Linked DNA regions of Homo sapiens: region 2 is linked to region 1. The links come from fine-mapping of genetic effects on gene expression. A gene starts in region 1. The other region holds a variant in brackets. All regions are shown on one strand. Distances are between the middles of the regions. Region 1 holds the start of UBL3 (ubiquitin like 3). Region 2 has its middle 3.5 kb from the start of LINC00572.

Region 1 (2,911 bases):
AATTGAAGTATTTTCACCTGCCCTTATTTCCTGGGGGGCTGGTGTAGGGGTAGGGGGACTCTGTGGTTGCTAAACATTGCAAATGAGCAACCAAGTAACAAAGGCCATGGAAAATCACGTAACTATGGACTTGGAAATATCTAGACAAAGTCCTGAAGCCTAATCACAGTGAGATTTGGGCCTCTCTTCTCTTCTGGCCTTTGGTTTTTCGGAGAATTTGATCTATCTTCCTCAGGGTGATATAGGCCCTTAGGAGTGTTTGGAATTTCTCCACCCAGGCTACTCAAGAGGCAGGTACTCTAAATGTCCTGTGGGTTTCCAACTGATGAGAAACCCAACTGGAGAGATTGCTGTGGGGAATCACGTAGGCTTCTAGACAATGAGCTCCCTGAGGACAGTGACTGGATTCTGCCTCTTTTCAACAGCCCTATAGACAAGGATGTAATAACCCCCATTGCCAACCCAAGACCTTGGCATTTCTGCCACATGATGCTGCTGTTCGCTACAGTGACTCATTTTTAAACTCCTAGTGCCTAGCAGAGTGCCTGGCACATTTGTTTGCTGAATGAGAGAATGAGTAGTGACATTTCATATCAAATGATGCATTATTATTTACAAAGTGATTTATTTCCCATGCATGAACTCATCCTCATAACTACCCCTACTTTACCCCGGAAGGTAGGCAAGACCATTTTACAGATGAGGTCACACAGCTGTAGGTTGGAGAGGTGGCTTTCAGACTCTAAATTCATTGGCATTTATATATAGGCATCATATTGAGACTGCCCTTTCTAAAGTACTCTGTCAAAGGACTAAGAGATATGAATAGGGATTCAGATGTTGACCTCAGATTTAGGAACAAAATGCAGAAATCACAAATGTCCATCTGAATGGTGTCTCAACAATGGCATTATTTTCTCCTATTTGCTAATCACTGCAAGGCATATAGGTTTTCAATTACATTATGAGTTACATAGAATAGAATTTAGGGTCCAGATGGGTAAACTGGTGAATCCCCATGAAGTTTGTAGTAGCTATTTCCTGATACAGATTTGATATAATAACACTGTTGTATGTAATACAGTTTTGGTAATTTCAGTTAAGTAGATTGTAGCTTTATTGCCCTGGGTCTTCAAGGAAACACATGTTCAAATATTCTCACTGCTTAATGAGATCCTTGTTCCTGTTGAACTTATGTGACCTTATTGGAAATCAATGATTGCTTTTGTTCTTCAAAATGTAATGTTGAGGAGACCTAGATGAAATCACTCTACAAAATGCATTGAGATTGCAGGATGTGGAGAATGTGCTGTAATTAAAATGAATGATTCTGCTTGGAGGTACAGCATATTTTAGCTCTGTGTGCATATCGTGCATAAGGGAATTTCTCTATGCAGAATTATTTTCTCCCAACAATTCTCATGATCACAGCACTCCTGGTAGCAGGTATCACTTAACTCCTGGGCAGCAGCTTGTCCAAAGCAAGGGAAAGGGAGCTTTCCTTTCCTCGCAACTGTTGCTATGGGGGGCGTGGCTTCGGAGCTGGGTGAGGAGGCGTTCGGCGGCTCCCTCCCCCCCCCACCCTCGTAGACTACACTTCCCGTGATGCTCGAGGGAATGGTCTCCGTGGTGACGCACTTGGTGTCCGCGGAGGGAGGACGAGGACGGGGGCGGCGGCTGCTGCGAGGGGGGGCCCGTGCTCTCCCCGTTTCCCTTAGTCGCACTCAGGCAGCCGCCGCCGCCGCCGCTGCCGCCATGTTGGTTTGAGAGGCGATGACAGGAGGCGGCCGCGGCGTGTGGGACTGAAAAGTGAAGGAGGAGGAGGAGAAACAAAGCTCTGAGAGGAAACCATTCCCGGGCTGAGGAGAAGGAGGACCCGGCCTCTTCCGGGGACCAGCCGAAGTCGGCGTCGCCCGGAGCTCGCGAGGCCGGGGAGGGGAGGGGAAGGGAAGGCGGAGACCGGGGAGGCGGCGGCGGGGAAGGCGGAGGCAGAAGAGGAGTGGCGAGGAGCCGGAGACGATGCGCCCCGACCCCAGCTGCTGTCCGGAGGCGCCCGCGGCCTGAGCCCAGAGGGGCTGTGGAGTGTCCCGGCCGGCCCCGAGCACCCCCGCGCTGTCGGTCCCCCGCTCCGGTCTTTCGCTTTGGCTTCCAACTAGTTAAATGCCCTTGAGCGCGGGTTTCCGCGGCCCGGCTCTTCGCCCCCGCGGCGCGAGTTGAGCCGTTTCCCCGCGCTGTCCGCGCGGGCGCTCCGACAGCGGCTCTGCAGGGTCCGCGGCCAGCGTCCGGCCACCGCTCGGCCGCCACTCAAGGCTCACGCGTCGATGTGTAGCTACATAGTTATCTGTGTACATCCACGCTGGGGCATTTTTCTCCTGCTTAATGAGGACTTGACTCGGGAGCAAGTGTGAATCATTGCCGGGGCTGGGAAAGGAGGAAGGCGCATTTAACCCCCTCCCACCCCTCTCCATGTCCGTGTGTCACTCGGCTCGGTCCACCTGGCGCGGCCGGTCCTGGGGCTGCTGCTGCTGTTGACGACGACGACGACGACGGGGGCTGCCTCTGCTGTCCCGGGAGTTTCCTCCTGCTCCGGCCACACAGCTCCTGGGGATTGTTCCTCTTCGAACCAGAACCTCGGCCTGACCGGCACTTTGGCTCCAAAATAACTTTATTTTTGGGGGAGAAAGCACATCACGAACCAGTCAAAATCGTGGTTTATTTCTGTAACGTGAAGACTTCTGCTCTTTTTTCTTTGTTTGTTTTTTTCGTAAACATCTGGGTGTATATCAAACGGCAAGATGTCCAGTAATGTCCCGGCGGATATGGTAAGTGACGGATAAGTTATGACACTGATTTAATTGTGGTTTCCAATCTTATTTAATCGGAAAGACGGCAGGCGTGGGGCGAAGATTTG
Region 2 (2,911 bases), 79 kb before region 1:
TATTTACTCCAAAAACTTAGTTGACAAAAGGGTAAAATGTGGGTAAAATGCTATCAAACAGCACTGTATACCACAGAGAAATCTTCATGAAAGGAAGAGTCAACTGGTGCCACAAACTTCACTGTTTTCTTATTTTAAGAAATTGCCACAGTCACCCCAACCTTCAGCCACCATCACCCGGATCAGTCAGCAGCCATAACATTGAGAAGTATCCTCTACCAGCAAAAAGATGACTACTTGCTGAAGGTTCAGATGATTGTTCGCATTTTTTTTTAGCAACAAAGTATTTTAATTAAGGTATGTACATTGTTTTCATAGACATAATGCTATTGCACAGACTAGAGTATACTTTAACCATAGCTTTTGTATGCACTGGGAAGCCAAAACAATGTGCAACTCACTTTATTGTGATTTTGCTTTATTGCAGTGGTCTGGCACAGGACTCACAATATGTGTGAGGTATGCCCGTGTTAACTATCATCAGGGTAGTCAAAGGTGCTATGAGAAGGTAGGGGTAGTGGGACACAGACAAAGGAGAGTCTTTTTTTTTTTTTTTTTTGAGACGGAGTCTCACTTTATCGCCCAGGCTGGTGTGCAGTGGCGCGATCTCGGCCCACTACAAGCTCCGCCTCCCAGGTTCACACCATTCTCCTGCCTCAGCCTCCTGAGTAGCTGGGACTACAGGTGCCCGCCACCACGCCTGGCTAATTTTTCGTATTTTTTAGTAGAGACGGGGTTTCACCGTGTTAGCCAGGATGGTCTTGACCTCCTGACCTGATGATCCACCTGCCTCGGCCTCCCAGAGTGCTAGGATTACAGGCGTGAGCTGCCGTGCCCAGCCGAGTCATTCTTAAAAGTGGATACTTATGCCCCTCTTCCCTTTATATCCTCCCTGCTTTGAATGCTGTATCATTTAGAATTAAGTTCAGCCAAAGGGGCTGGGTGTGGTGGCTCATGCCTGTAATCCCAGTACTTTGGGAGGCTGAGGTGAGCAGATTGCTTGAGCCCAGGAGTTTGAGACCAGCCTGGGCAGCATGGTGAAACCCCATCTCTACAATAAATGCAAAAAAATTAGCCAGGTGTGGTGGTGCACACCTGTGGTCCCAGCTACCTGGGAGGCTGAGGTGGGAGAACACCTGAGCCCAGGAGGTCAACGCTGCAGTGAGTTGTGACTATACTTGCTGCACTCCAGCCTGGGTGATAGAGGCTCTGTCTCAACAACAACAACAACAAAAGTTCAGCCAAAGGAATAGGAAACCCAAAATAGCAGTCGCTTAAGTAAAGCAAAAATTTAGGTCTCTCCACTGTAAAAAGTCTGGAAGTAAGCAGTTCAGGGTTGGTTTGGTGACTCTGTAGTGACAGGGACTCAGGCTCCTTGTGACTTTTGCCTTACCACATGCAGCTTCCATTCCCAAGGTCACCTCATGGTCCACAATTGCCACTGGAGTGCCAACCATTACATCTGAATTCCAGCTACCTGAATGAAGAGGGGGACAAAGACGAGCATGTCCCTTCCATTTAAGGACATGTCAGAAGTTGCATA[C/T]ATCAGTTCCACTTGCATCTCGCTGGTCAGAACTAGGTCACATGGTTACACCAATTGGCAAAGGAGGCTAGAAAATGTATAGTCAGTCTTTATTCTGTGAAGTCAAGTGCACAGTTAAAACCTAGGGGCTCTATTACTAAGAAGAGGAAAAAGAATACTGGAGAAACAGCAAGCAGTCTACCATGTATGGACATCAGCAGATGCCCAATCCCCAGTATCGAGCATACTCAAAGACAGAAAAGGCTGTGTTTCCAACAGAAATCTAGGTAGGGGTTTGTACCATGCCTCAGATTCTCTGGGTTTCACATCTCTAAGGTCTTTGGCCCCTTTTTCTATTCCAGCTGCTGCGTGCTGAGCAACTCTGCACGGGCTGTGACCAACTTCTCAGGAGCTTGAAACTGCCTCCCATCCTAGGCATGCATGAGCAACTGCTTAGTGCCTCGCCTCCAGCCTGGGGCTTTTCTGTTGAGCTCTGTCGTGAGACATCCACGGACCACATAGTGTCTACCTGTGTCCATCCAGAAGCAAGGGGCATCACCATCTGCCGTGCCAACCTTTGACCCATAGACGAATGCAGCAAATGGCTAAACTGTATCCCTCTTTTCCCACAGAAGGGCTGTCCTGAGATGCAGCCATTCACATGGCCTGTCAGAAGATGGACCTGCAAGATTGCATCATCGATTGAGCTGAAAATCCAGCAGTAGCGAGCTCAGTTACCCATTATTGGCTCTCCCTCTTTTTCTGCCTTGCTCCCCTCTTCCCTCACTCTTCTGTCCTTAGGAAGGCACTCCCCAATCTAGAAATAGCACACATACTTTGCCTCAGGCTCTGCTTTCTAGGGAAGTCAGGCTAAGGCAGGTAGGTCTCTTCCCTCCGTCCAGGCTCCCTTCCTCCCTCCTCCCCATTTCCCATTGTGCTTCTGGTTGAAGAATGCACAGTTCTGGTTAACAGAACTGAAATGGGTCTTCAGGCAGGTTCAAATGAAGTCCTTCCTGGTCTAATGCTTTCTAATCTTTGTATCCCAGACAAAATCAGCCTCTCAGGTTTAACAAGGTTTCTGGTTATCTCAAGTGAAAACAAAACAAAACAAAACAAACAAAAAAACAAAAACAAAAACAACTTTCACATTTTTTAAATAGCCATTTCTTTTTCTTTTCTTTCTTTCTTTTTTTTTTTTTTTGAGACAAATTTTTTTTTTGCTCTGTTGCCCAGACTGGAGTGCAATGGTGCAATCTCGGCTCACTGCAACCTCCACCTCCCGGGTTCAAGCAAGTCTCCTGCCTCAGCCTCCCAAGTAGCTGGGATTACAGGAACCTGCCACCACACCTGGCTAATGTTTGTATTTTTAGTAGAGATGAGGTTTCACTG

The links. PIP is the estimated chance that this variant, and not a neighbour inherited with it, causes the effect.
Region 2: its variant is fine-mapped to the expression of UBL3 in lung (TOPMed, PIP 0.95).

The regions. Positions count from the first base shown.
Region 1 is chr13:29,849,423-29,852,333 of GRCh38, reverse strand. It overlaps UBL3 (ubiquitin like 3), which reads left to right and starts at 1,717. Exons shown (of 5, transcript NM_007106.4): 1 at 1,717-2,822. The coding sequence starts at 2,796. RefSeq lists silencers at 1,562-1,671, 1,942-2,241 and enhancers at 1,802-1,871, 2,542-2,611.
Region 2 is chr13:29,928,734-29,931,644 of GRCh38, reverse strand. No RefSeq gene overlaps it. Among named protein-coding and RNA genes, the nearest start is that of LINC00572, 3.5 kb to the right of the region's middle. The variant C/T (reference allele first, on the strand shown) is at 1,544.